Linked DNA regions of Homo sapiens. The protein of the gene in region 1 interacts with the protein of each later gene in a biochemical or structural test. Each region holds a gene or a part of one and is shown on either strand. Other genes may lie near its edges.

What was found. Proteins that work in one complex are often made in the same cells at the same time.
Region 2: the proteins of RBSN (region 1) and RAB22A are reported together in a solved structure, tested with the Homo sapiens proteins (one study listed by BioGRID).

The regions. Positions count from the first base shown.
Region 1 is NC_000003.12:15,089,144-15,096,167, reverse strand, and holds part of RBSN (rabenosyn-5), read left to right. Parts: 5' UTR 1-47; coding exon 48-195; exon of another isoform or gene 196-497; intron 498-4,674; exon of another isoform or gene 4,675-4,829; intron 4,830-5,628; coding exon 5,629-5,769; exon of another isoform or gene 5,770-6,008; coding exon of another isoform or gene 6,009-6,033; intron 6,034-7,024. UniProt on the Homo sapiens protein: Rab4/Rab5 effector protein acting in early endocytic membrane fusion and membrane trafficking of recycling endosomes. Required for endosome fusion either homotypically or with clathrin coated vesicles.
Region 2 is NC_000020.11:58,354,709-58,361,732, forward strand, and holds part of RAB22A (ras-related protein Rab-22A), read left to right. Parts: intron 1-4,897; coding exon 4,898-4,995; 3' UTR 4,996-7,024. UniProt on the Homo sapiens protein: Plays a role in endocytosis and intracellular protein transport. Mediates trafficking of TF from early endosomes to recycling endosomes. Required for NGF-mediated endocytosis of NTRK1, and subsequent neurite outgrowth.

The DNA of each region.
Region 1 (7,024 bases):
TCTTGGCATGAGATTCCTGCCTTCCTAGGGTTGAGAGCGGCACTGCCATGGCTTCTCTGGACGACCCAGGGGAAGTGAGGGAGGGCTTCCTCTGCCCTCTGTGCCTGAAGGATCTGCAGTCTTTCTATCAGCTTCACTCACATTACGAGGAAGAACACTCAGGGGAAGACCGTGATGTCAAAGGGCAAATTAAAAGTAAGAGGCGAGGACCTTGCCTATCCCCTGCTGTCGTTGAGAGCTTTAACTCACGGGATAGTTCTCATCAGCTTTGGTGTTGCCACAGGAATATGATAATAGTAGTAGCAAACAGATGACTAGTGTTTGTCATGTGCCAGGCGTTTTCAGAGTTTCCCTGTTTATTAATTTCATTTAATCCTCACAATAACTGTGTGGCTGTAAGCCACATTTCGAACCAGACACAGAGAGATTAGATAACTTGTCTGAAGCCACTCAGAGAAACAATCTGACTTTGAGTCTAGTAAATGTAATTGCTGTGATCTGGCTTGACTGTTCTTTAACCACCAGCCTAACAGGGTTTGGAGAGGAATTTCTTTCCTTTGCTATGATGATGGAGGCACATTATGCACCCATTTTACCTGTCACAAATTTAAGACTTCCCACCATCCTTCCTTCCCCAATTGGTATCTTGCCCTCTATAGCCCAGAAAAAGGAAGGTCATAGTCGAAGAACAAAACAACCTAAAAACCTTGGTTTTTGAGCTTCCAAGAGCTCAGGTTTGAGAGAGTTGTGGAAAGAATTTTTCAAAGGTACTTTTCACTATACATATGTTTATTGTATTTCCTGGACATCAAATTCTAACCTCCAGATAAGATGCTGCTCCTCTGGGCGGGCACAGTGGCTCACGCCTCTATTCGCAGCACTTTGGGAGGCCAGAGTGGGCAGATCACTTGAGCTCAGGAGTTCAAGACCAGCCTGGGCAACATGGCGAAACCCCGTCTCACAAAAAAAATTAAAAAAAAAAACAACTAGCCGGGCGTGATGGTGCACGCCTGTAGTCCCAGCTACTCAGGAGACTGAGGTAGGAGGATCACTTGAGCCCAGGGAGGTCAAGGCTGTAGTGAGCGATGATCATGCCACTGCACTCGCACCTGGGCAACAGAGAGAGAGACACACACACACACAAACACACACACGCCAAAGATGCTGCTCCTCTGGAACTTATTTTGTAGTTATTCAGCTAACTTGCTTCTCACAGCTGGCAGCATTTCTGAAGGCCTTGAGATTAAAGAGTTCTGGATGTTGTATTCAAAGTCTTTATTGGGAGAGAAAGAAAGGAATGATCATGTATTTCTAAGTGGACTTCAGCTTTCAGACAGGTGAATCATATGCACTTTGTAATCAGATATTTGTCCCTAGAGTCTCACTCTATCTCACTTTTCTGTTCAGTAAAAAAGAGTTTCTAAAAGCATAAACAGTTATAACTTCTATCCAAAAACAACAAAGGCAAACATTTCTGAAATCCTGAGGGCTTTGGTGGATGAGGTGGCTTCTGGCTGTAGAGGCTATAGAACAGAGCCAAAACTATTAGGAGGGAAAAAAATGCTGTGCTTTATAGTTTTTAGAGTTTCTTTCACAGACATTATTGTTTCATCTGACTCTCCTAACAACTCTGCAAGAAGGTGATTGGTCTCATTTTACAGATAGTAAGTGAAGTGAGGCTCAAGAGATGTTGAGTTACTTATCCACGGTCACACAGGAATTGGCAGAGCTAGGCCTGGAACGTAGGTCTTCTGTCATCTGTAAATCCAGTGCTGCCCTTTGCACGTGACATCACTGAGGGTGAGAGGCCCCGTGTTCCAATCACAACATGCATTGCAGCTTCCTGGGGGAAATGAAGCAAAAACAAAACTAAAAAACCTGATTATGTAAGTTTCCTTTGGACAACCGAAGAGCTTCCATCATTTTCAACTAGCTTCCAGTCTTGGTGTCAGCTGAACTAAGTCCTATACAATGCCATTGCTCAACCTGGTGATACCAGTGGGTAGAGAGGTTAGAGAATGTTCCCGGATTCCTACAGTGACCCTTTTTTAAGAGGAAAAATGTTTAAGGTTATTTAGAGAATACAGATATGGGAATCTATTTAAGGAATACTAAATAGAATAGAAATTTTGTGCCTTGTGAAAGAAACTTGAAAGGATCCTTGGCTGGGCACAGTGGCTCACATCTGTAATCCCAGCACTTTGGGAGGCCATGGCGGGAGGATCGCTTCAGCTTAGGAGTTTGATACCAGCCTGGGCAACATAGATCCTGTCCAAAAATAAAAAAAAATTTTTTTTAATTAGCTGGGCATGATGACATGCATTTGTAGTCCTAGCCACTTGGAAGGCTGAGGCAGAAGGATCCCTTGAGCCCGGAAGGTTGAAGCTGCAGTGAGCCATGATTATGCCACTGCACTCCAGCCTGGGCAGCAGAGTGAAACTCTGACTCAAAAACAAAAAAACAAAATAAAGTTACTTCAGCCGGGTGCGGTGGCTCATGCCTGTAATTCTAGTACTTTGGGAGGCCAAGGCAGGAGGATTGCTTGAGCCCAGGAGACCAGACTGGGCAACATAGCGAGACCATTTCTACAAAAAAATCATTTAAAAAAATTAGCCAGTCATAGTGGCACGCACTCGTAGTCCCAATTACCCAGGAGGCTGAGGTGGGAGGATCGCTTCAGCTCAGGAGATCAAGGCTGTTACATTCTAGCCTGAGCAACAGAGTGAAACTGTCTCAAAAAAAAGAAAGAAAAGATCCTCTTGGTTTTTCCCTTTATTTCCCACCCTGCCTTACCCCCGACATCTCTACCTCTAGTACTATTAATGATCATGTCTTTAGTTAGAAAGGAATTCTTGATTATGTTGCAGTTTTCTGCATTTCAGAATCAGGAAAGTAAAGTTTTAAGGATTGACATGAAAGGTTTTTTGAAAAGCCCTTTAGAAAGCAGATTACGTCTCCATTTGGTCTTTTGATTCTTAGAAATGTTATGACATGGTTAGTTTTGGGCAAGTGAAAAGTTAAAGCCAAAAGAGTGAACCTTAGTATTAGGTTTTGGGGGCAGTTCAAAAAAGAAAAGATAGATTAGTCATTAGTAAAAAGTTAGTGGGTTCGGGGCCCAGTCCTGGTTCAGCTCCAGTCTAGCCCATTTTCAGTAAGTAGAAGAAAAGATAGCTGAAAATTGACTGTGGCTTCTTGCTTTGTTAGTGTTTTTTAAAATATATGGGATTATTTTTAATTGGCCTTCTCTGGAAGGGCTATGTCCTTTCTGGGAACATTGCCAGGCAGTTTTTCTATCTCCTAAAAGTGGTTAAATGGTATAGATTGCCTGTTTAACCTGATACTTTAGTCTTGTTTGCAAAAATGAATTGTTACTTGCTAACTCACATTCCTGTTTGCTAGACCCTTTGTTCACATCAGGCAGTTTTCTCTCCCCTGTTACTAGAAAAGACTGCTTTAGGCCAGGGACAGTGGCTCATGCCTGCAATCCCAGCACTTTGGGAGGCCGAGGTGGGCAGATCATCTGAGGCCAGGAGTTTAAGACCAGCCTGGCCAATGTGGTGAAACCCCATCTCTACTAAAAAAAATACAAAAATTAGCTGGGTGTGTTGGCACGTGCCTGTAATTTCAGCTACTCGGGAGGCTGAGGCAGGAGCATCCCTTGAACCCCTGGAAGGCAGAGGTTGCAGTGAGCTGAGATTGCTGCCATTGCATTCCAGCTTGGGCAACAAGAGTGAAACTCTGTCTCAAAAAAAAACAAACAAACAAACAAAAAAAACCCACTTTAGTGCATTTTAAAGGATGTCCTTTTGTTTTAGTATTTTTCCAGTTTGGACAAAGCTGTCCCACAGTGACCAATAATCAGGAAGTTTGCTTATTGGCTTGACCGTCTTAAAAAAAAAAAAAGACAAGTGTATTCTTATCAATCTCACCCTCAGCCTGCGAACCTGGGCAACATCTCTACAAAAAAATGTTTTATAAAATAATTTACCTAGTCATGGTGGCGCACACCTATAGTCCCAGCTACTTGAGAGACTGAGGCGAGAGGATCGCTTGAGCCCAAGAGATCAAGGCTGCAGTGAGCTATGATCAGCCACTGCACTCCAGCCTGGGTGACAGAGCAAGACCCTGTCTCTAAAAAATAAATAATTAAAAAGTAAAAGTAATGATACCATTTTATATTCAGTCTGATATTTTCTACTAGATTCTGGTGGAAGAAAGGGATAGCAGTCATCCAAGATTAAAGAACATTCATGAGAGAGCGTCTTAGAACTGAGAATTCTTCCCGCCCCACACCAGCTGATTGTTCAGTTTAACAGGTGGTTCTCTGCACCAGCACAGGTGGCAGAACCCATGTTCTGCAGAGGCATAGTTTGTGAATCAGGACTAGCGGGGGAGAGCTGGAGCTCTCATTTCAGGCACATGAGGTGTCTACTTCCAGCCCTGCTGTTACCTGTAAGCTCTGTGATCTTGGGTGAAGCAAGTTCTTCCCTGTCTTTGATGTCGTTTCCTCATTTGTAAGTAGGGCTATCACCTGCCTTATAACATTGTAAGCATGAACTGGCATAATGTATTTGCAAGCACTTTGCGTTGTACCTGGTACATACGATGGCTAAATACAGGAAATGTTCATTTTCTCTTCTTACCCAATCTGGTTCTGTTTGTGTTATGTTGTAGATGTTATATCTGTTTCTTGAAGCTTTTTGCAAGTATTCTCACATGCATTCAATAAGTGCGTGGGCAGTAGTGGGGAAGCAAGAACTCTGTGTCCAGTTAAGCCTATGGGGAACACCAGTCCACGGATGGAGGTTTAGCTGAATCCCATCCTGGAGGTAAATGAGAAGAATTTACTCATGAGTTTCTGGGGTAAATGAATTAGTACTATAGAACTTGTTTTTTAAAAAACATTATTTTAACTGAGGTATAGTTTTAATTTTTTTTTTTTTTTTTTTTTTTTTTTGAGACAGGGTCTCATTCTGGTTGTCCAGGCTGGAGTACAGTGGCACAATCTCAGCTCACTGCAGCCTCGACCTCCTGGGCTCAGGTGATTCTCCCACCTCAGCCTCCCAAGTAGCTGGGACTACAGGTGCATGCCACAACACCCAGCTAGTTTTTTGTATTTTTAGTAGAGATGGGGTTTTGTCATGTTGCCCAGGCTGGCTTGAATTCCTGGACTCAAGCAATTTGCCTCCCTTGTGGGATTACAGGTGTGAGCCACTGCGCCTGGCCCAATTCAAAAAGTTTTCAAAAATGTATATACCCACTTCACCACCACTCCAATTAAGATAAAGAAGAAAACACTTCCATCACCCTGTTTTCCTCATCAAATTTGATTTTAGCACTTTTATTTAATTGTGCTCTTAAATTTGGCAATGAGCAGTAATTTAGCCCATATGTTGGCCGCCTAAACCAATTTAATGCTAATATTGATTAACTAGTGTATTGCTCTGTGGTATTTGTAATATAGTGTTTGTGTGCTTGCTCCTGCATTTTACTTGAGATCTAAATATTTCTGGTGCATTTTTAAACAAACGATAATTATTTCGTCAACTCTTGTTTTTTGAGATTTCTTTTGACTGTTTACTGGGTGTTCTTCATGGCTCATTTGTATTATTTGTTCCATTTTTCAAGGTCTTGTCCAGAAGGCTAAAAAAGCAAAGGACAGGTTGTTGAAACGAGAAGGGGATGATCGAGCAGAGTCAGGGACCCAAGGATATGAGTCTTTCAGCTATGGAGGGGTTGATCCTTACATGTGGGAACCCCAGGAGCTTGGTAAGAAAATTCATTTATTCATTCAGCAAGTGGTTATTGAGCATCTGCTATGTTCTAGGTAAAGTTTTAAGAGTTGGCTGAGGAGGCATCAGTAAACCATAATGGTCTAAGCTTCTCATGGACCTTATGCCCTTGCTGGGGGAAGAAAATGGAAGAGAACCAGCTGAGCATCCACTTTGTGTTAGGCACTACATTAAGTGCCTTATACCCATGGTCTTGTTAGATCTTCACTGCACCTCATGAGAACCTGCCCAGGGACAAACAGTGAGTAAACTGCAGAAGTAGGGTATGAATCCATATCTCTCTGACGTCAGCCCAGGCATAGAGTCCATTAATGATTCTTTCCTCTCACATAGGACATTACCTGCCCAGTGACAGGCACTGGTTTATGCAGCTTACTTTTTTGAATAATTATAGTAACATCTACCTACTTTCATGTTTTTGGGATGATAAAAATTCTCTAACATTTATTATGATGATTGTACAACTCTGAAAATCCTAAGCTGGGCGCGGTGGCTCACACCTGTAATCCCAGCACTTTGGGAGGCCGAGGCGGGCAGATCACGAGGTCAGGAGATCCAGACCACGGTGAAACCCCGTCTCTACTAAAAATACAAAAAATTAGCCGGGCGTGGTGGCGGGCGCCTGTAGTCCCAGCTGCTCAGGAGGCTGAGGCAGGAGAATGGCGTGAACCCAGGAAGCAGAGCTTGCAGTGAGCTGAGATCGTGCCACTGCACTCCAGCCTGGGTGACAGAGTGAGACTCTGTCTCAAGAAAAAAAAAAAAGAAAAGAAAATCCTAAAAACCACTGAATTTGCTTTAAATGGTGTATGTATGTGAATTATATCTCAATAAAGCTATTTATCATGCCAGTCACACTTAGTTGAACTATCTAATCTTACATATCTGTTTTTTTTTTTTGTTTTTTTTTTTTTTTTTTTTTGGAGATGGAGTCTCACTGTGTCACCCAGGCTGGAGTCCAGGGCTCCGTCATGGCTCACTGCATTCCAGGCTCAAGTGATCTCTCACTTCAGCCTCCTCAGTAGCTAAGACTACTGGTGCACACCATCCATCACACCTGGCTAATTTTTGTATTTTTTGTAGAAACAGGGTCCTATGTTGGCCAGGCTGGTCTTGAACTCCTGGGCTCAAGTGATCCTCCCATCTCAGCCTCCCAGAGTGCCAGGATTACAGGTGTGAGCCACTACGCCTGCCTACATATCCTTTAACCGTCTAATGATAACAGTCATTAATAT
Region 2 (7,024 bases), on another chromosome or scaffold:
ATATGATGATACTCGATGGGAGAGGGGCTGCTGCATGCCTTTGGGATCCTCTGCAGATCGTATCTATGTTTATTCATTTCATTCAAATTCATCAAAATATTTATTGGGAGCTGTTCCAGGCTCAGGGGAAATAGCCGTGAAGAAGATAGACGCAGCCCCTGCTCTCCTGGAGCGCACATTCTACAGAGGGAAACAGACAGTGAACACCAAATAAATAGGATCATTTCAGATCATAATAACTGATACAAAGAAAATAATTTAGGATGAAATGAAGGAATGTCTGCAAGCAATTGGGGAAGGTCTCCCTAAGGAGGTGCTATCAGAGCTGAGGTCCAAAGAAGCAGGCCCTGTAGAGGTGTGGGGAGTCACATAAACATGTCAGACTTCCAGGTGGAGAAAAGCAGAAAGCCGTCAGAGCAGGGTGGATGTAGCGTTAAGATCCACCATGTGGTTGAGAGCCAAGGGTACTGAAGCAGGGAGGGTCCTTTGCCATTGTGTCGAGGAGGGGCATGAACTCCAGAGCCCACCAAGGCCAGGCAAGGTTGACCCATGAGCAGAGCAGGCCCAGGTGAAGCCTTGGGAACCCCAGCTCAGGCCAGGCCCAGCTCCATCAGCTGGGGCCACACTGGAATGTGGGCCCCTGGTTGCTGAGGTTGTTTTCACATTTTTTTTTTACATGTCCCATTGTTTAGATTTGGCCAATCATTTAAGTATTTTCAGAGTACTTTGCAGGCCTAAGGAGCCCATCTGCTGCCAGATATGGCCAGTGAACTACTGATTGCACCCTCTAGGCCAGCCCGTTCATTTCAGTGTTAAAACGTCATGATGTGCCCGGGCATGGTGGTTGTCACCTATAATCCCAGCTACTCCAGAGGCTGAGGCAGGAGGATCACTTGAGGTCAGGAGTTTAAGACCACCTTAGGCAACATAGTATAACCCTATGTCTAAAAAAATATAAAAATCAAAATACTAGGGCATTGTGGCATGCACCTGTAGTCCCAGCCACTCGGGAAGCTGAGGTGGGAGGATGGCTTGAGCCCAGGAATTTGAGGCTGCAGTAAGCCATTGATTGCACCGCTACACTTCAGCTTAGGTGACAGAGCAAAACCCTGTCTCTTAAAAAAACAAAAATCATGTTTATTGTTGTCCTGGATGTAAATAGCAGGTACCCAGATGGATTTTTGAAAGGCAACATAAAGCCAGTTGGGAATTTTTCACAGCTCAAGCTAAAATGTCTAAGTGTGTGGTGTCATGAGTATGTTAAAATTACTGCTATCTTTTTGTGTTCTTCACTTTAGTGGTATTAAAAACAGGAAAGTAGGCCAGACATGGTGGCTCACACCTATAATCCCAGCACTTTGGGAAGCCAACATGGGTGGATCACCTGAGGTCAGGAGTTCGAGACCAGCCTGGCCAACATGGTGAAACCCCCATCTCTACTAAAAATACAAAATTAGCTGGGCGTGGTGGTGCATGCCTGTAATCCCAGCTACTTGTGAGGCTGCGGCAGGAGACTCGCTTGAACCCGGGAGGTGGAGATTGCAGTGAGCCGAGATCACGCCATTGCACTCCAGCCTGGGCAACAAGAGCAAGACTCCATCTCAAAAAAAAAAAAAAAGGAAGATAGTAAACTATACCAACAATGAAAAGTCTTATATAAAAACTAGTATGTACATATTCAATTTAACTGTGAAAAACAAAACCTATATGTTCACAAAGATTAGAAAAATTGGGAGAGATGTACATAGACTTTCTTGTTCACTGGCTTAGTAAAACTGCGTGAGCACAGTGCCTGGCACACTGACTTTGTATTGAAGTATAATAGACATACAGAAATGTGCACGTATCAGAAGTATAAGGCTCAGTGAATTTTCACAAACTGAATATACTCCGGTGCTTGGCACTCTGGTTGGGACATGGCCGTTCCTACACCCAACGGTAACCATCCTGATACTAATTCTTCAGATTGGTTTATCTGGTTTTGTTTTACATATATTTTGTACTTTATATTTTTAAAAACACTCTGTTTCCTCTTGTGTGTCTGGCTTCTTTCATTCTGCATTACATTTTTAGACCATCCATGTCATTGCATCTAGCTGTGAATGATCCACTCTCATGGCTGGTTTGTGCGTGTGAGTGTCAGAGTCCGAGTTGTGCGGGTAAGGGGGCAGTGAAGAATACCCACAATATAATTATCCATTCTGCTGTTGATAGACATTTGGGTAGCTGTTTCCAATTTAGAGTTATTACAAACAGTACTGCTCTAAACATTCTGATCGTATTCTTTGGTGAACATCTGTACACATTTTTGTTAGGTATATTTATACCCACAAGAAAAAATGCTTGTCATTGAGTATGCATGCATTCAGTACAGCTTTACCGCCAACCAGTTTTCAAAGTGGTAGTTGTACTAGTTGACAACCATACCGGTAGTGTATGAGAAGTCCGATCACCTTCTGTCTCTGGTGGGTAGTCAGTGATCTCCATTTTCATGACAGTTAATGAAGTCGAGCACATTTCCGAATATATGTTTACATTTGTCGTATCTACATATCCTCCTTTGTGAAGGGCCTGTTAAGTCTTTTGCCTGTTTTCCTGTTGGGTTACCTGCCTCCTTCTTAATGTTTTATAGTTCTTTATTTTGGAGATGAGTCACTTATTGACTATGTATATTGGAAGTATCTTCTACTGTATGGCTTGCCTTTGATTTTTTTAGTCAACTCCTTCGATGGATTGAAGTTTTTAATCTTCATATAATCTGACTGATCCTTGTTTTCCTTTATGTTTAGCTGCATTAGGTTTTTGGTTGCTGTTTTAGAAATCATTACCTGTTCCCAGCTCATGAAAATATTCTCCTCTTATTTCTTTTAAAAATATTATTTGTTCAACAATTTTTTGATGTCATATTTCACAGATGTCTCTTAGATACCAGCTATATTTCAATATCCATTTATTGAGAATAATGACAAGAAGCTTGGGTAAAGCTTTTAAACAGATTTGTAGTATATTCACAGCAGTGTCTAGTCATTTGAAAAGTAGTTAGAAGACATTGGGAGATACTTTCTCAATGTAGAAACCATGCTGTGTACTCCCCACACAGATCCGCAGACAACTCAAAGTGGTGGAGGCTCAAGGCTTGAGAGAACCTGAGTCAGCGGAGAGGCCATCTTAGCCTTGTTAATGTCAAAAGGTGTACATGTCCATTTATTCCATGTTTACAAAATACTTCTGTGTCAGGTATTGTGCTGATAAGATACTGGAAACATAAAGATGGACAAATAGGATCTCTTCCCTAGAAGAGCTTAGGGTCTAATGTGAGGGAGATAGTCATGTAAACAGATATGAGATATGTGTAGTAACCTGTTTCTGGTGTCCTGATTGATTGTAGTGTCTGGGATGTTACAGAGTAAGGAAGTGGGAGGGTGTCAGGAAAGCCTTTGTACAAGAAGCAACCCTTGAGTTATCAGCCAGGTAGGTAGATGGGTGATTTAAGGATTCTCTTGAAATTGTCATTATGCTTCACGGAGCAGTGAAGTGAAACCTGTTCATTCTCATGCATTGTTGGTAGGAGAATATAGTGGCACAGCCTCTTCAGAGAGTAATTTGGCAGCATCTGTCAAAATTTAAATTGCACATTCTTCCTGCATTTGTGCTAGATAGACACTGGAATACAATGTATGTGTCAGACAAATACCCAGGAGTAGAATACCGTGACCTAGCTCTTCCACTCCGGGCATTAATCCTACACACATACTCGTAAGTTCAGAAAGATGCTTCTTGCATCTTTGTTAATAACATCAAAATATTGGAAACAAACTAAATACCCATCAATAGAGAAATGGTTAAATGAATGGTGGTACATCTACAAATGCAGTATTTTAGAGCTGTTAAAAAGAAGGCAGCAGGCCAGGCACAGTGGCTCACATCAGTAATCCCAGCACTTTGGGAGGCTAAGGCAAGCAGATTGCTTGAGGTCAGGAGTTCAAGACCAGCCTGGCCAACATGGCGAAACCTGGTCTCTACTAAAAATATAAAAATTAGCCGGGCGTGGCGGTACACGCCTCTAATCCCAGCTACTCGGGAGGCTGAGGTGGGAGAATCGCTTGAACCTAGGAAGCTTAGGTTGCAGTGAGCCGAGATCATGCCACTATACTCCAGCCTAGGTGACAGAGCCGATAGCCTGTCTCAAAAAAAAAAAAAAAAAGGTGACGGCTCTTTCTCCATGTACTATGATGCCACAATCCCCAGGATGTGTTGAGTGAAAGTATCAAGGTGGAGAATGGTGCATATGGTTTGCTTTATTTCTTGCCCCATTTGGCCTTGGAAAGGGGAGATGGGTAGGGATATAGGTGTGCCTGAGTGTTTGTGCATATATGTCTCTGGAAGGCTACACGAGAAATGGGCCACAGTGGTGGCCTTGTCATGAGACAGAGGGACAACCATGTTCTGACTGAACTTTTTAAAAAACAAATCCTATGTATTACCTACTCAAAACAAAATGTTTTTGATGTGTGGCTTTTTTTAATTAAAAAACGTTTACTAAGTGCTGTGTGATATCCTTGTTTGGATCCTGGGGCAGAAGCAGGACATGTAGAAAAACTGATGCTATCTGAAAAAAGTCTGGAGTTAATAGTGATGTGGCAATGTTGAACTCTTCATTTTGACAAATGTCCCATGGTAATATGTCAGCACTGGGGGAAACTGGGTGGGAGGTACACAGGAGCTCTATCATCTTTGCAGCTTTTCTATAAATCTAAAATTATTCGAGTATAAAAAGTTTATTAAACTTTTTTTTTTTTTTTTTTACTTCAGTGAAACCTGTCAAATTGCATCTGCAAAATTGTTGTGTCTGAGAAAGTTAAAGCTCACTCCCTTCCCTTTTCTCATCTTGGTTTAGGTCGAAGAATTCCATCCACTGACGCCAACCTGCCATCTGGCGGTAAGGGCTTCAAACTCCGAAGACAGCCTTCAGAGCCAAAGCGGAGCTGCTGCTGACCGAACCTCAGCCTCTCAGACTTGATGATGAAGTAGGTGGTCCTGAAAGTTAACAGGAGGGCTGGGGTCCCTGCCACCAGTTTTCACCTAGCCAGTCTTGAGTCTTCTCCGTGCAAAAAGGATTCACAGAAATGGACCAGTTCTGTTCTCCAAAGACTGCAGCAATGATATTTCAGTCTGTGAACTTCTATTATGTAAAGAATCTCTAGTGTACAAAGGGACTACATCGTTGGCTTTTGACCTTGCTGAAAAGGAACATATAATTGTATGGATGGTAGGATTAAGTTGTTGAGTAGTTTTGTAATCAAGATTTTATGTAACATTTGTAAAGGGAAAATTAGCACTTTTGTGGTTCTTAAGGGAAAAGAAACAGACCTTGTGGAGATTATAATTTCCTTGGTTTCTGTTACCACTGTTAGAGGGAGTTGTATCATTTAACATATAGTAGGATAGTTTAAGTGTAGGGAGGACAATTATTGTCTGAAGCTAAAATGGGTTATTTATAGGACTGATGGAAATGATTTCATCTCTGCCATCTCTAAAGCACTTTTCATTGAACATGTTAGCCTAGGATACGTACAGTAAATTAACAATGATAGCAGCAGATGCCTAGCTCATCCTGGGTTTGCTTCTGACCTTGTCATGTGTGTGCCACCAAACACGTTATTGGCACCTTTTTAAATAAGCTCTCATGATCAAGATGGTGATGGTAGAGAAGCTGCCCGGAATAAACTGAATTTCATATGTTCTAAAATGACTAGCAATGGTTTAAAAAGGAAGAAGAGTGGAAGTGAAGAAGGTGGTATAAATGCTGTCAATTTTTTTTTAACCCAAGTATTTTGGTGGGGAAAAGCAAGTATCTATTGCTTAGCATATGTAAAGTTGTAGTCTATATTTATGGGGCCATTGCTTAAAGATTATAAATTATGTAAATACATTAATAAATTCTAAGTTTCATTTGACATTCCATTGAATCTCGCACCCAGTCTTGCGTATGCCTGCCCAGTTTTCAGCCTCTTAACGGGAGACTCAAGCACATTGGTATTGTATAAAGGTATAGAGCACTTAGCTTACAATCTTTAAAGGTTTCTCTGCCTTCCCTTCTACCCACCCGCCTCCCACCAGATCCCATCTGGAAATCATAATAAAGACATATGCCACTTTGACAAACCTGACTAGTCCTTACTAGCCTGAGGGTAAAAGATTAAGCTCCAACCTCAAGTCATTTACCTGGTCTTGGTAATAAGTTTCTTTTAGCTTGTACAGCATCCTCAGACCAACTGAGGAGCTTTCCTTGTTAACAATTTAGCTTATCTTTCTGTTTCCTTTATTTTTCCCCTGCCTCTGTTAGTGGTTAACACTCTTTTCCCTCAGGGAGCCTAATGAGGTTTTTAATATCATCTAAAAATAAAGCATTGAAGTGAAGTTGGTGAAAATTTGTTCCTGGTCTAATTTGGCACCCTTCCAACCTGAGTATTGTAGGGGAAGGAAATTTACAAGATTTAATAGGAAATGAAACAGCTTGAATTTCAAACTAAATTGTATTTTCAGAGCTATCCTGAAACTGAACAGCTGAAACTTTAAAAAATAATTGGTATTATTTTGTGCCCCCCACTTAATATGGATAGATTTTAATGGGAAAATTATAATTCAGATTAAATAAAAAACAATTCCCTTTTCCCTGTTGTATATCTTAAGCATTTGGAATTTTTTTTATCTTCTGAAATCATATAAAAAGAATGTCATTAGTAAAAATTCTAACTTCGTTTTGTTTAAAAGACATGTGGATGCTCCATGCCCCTAGGATTTTGCTTCCTCCCCGGTGCTAAATTAGCAAGCTCCTAGAGAAGCCATGTGATTCCCAGAGCCAGGCGCTTTACACCTAAAGTAGTTTGACTTTCTTCTGTATACATCCAGATGGATCCCAGGCATCCGGGCACCACCCTGGTGTGTCCCTAGAATTCCCACTGCTGGGCCTCTATCTCCATGACAACAAAATAAAAACAGAGGTTGCTTGACTCATTACCAA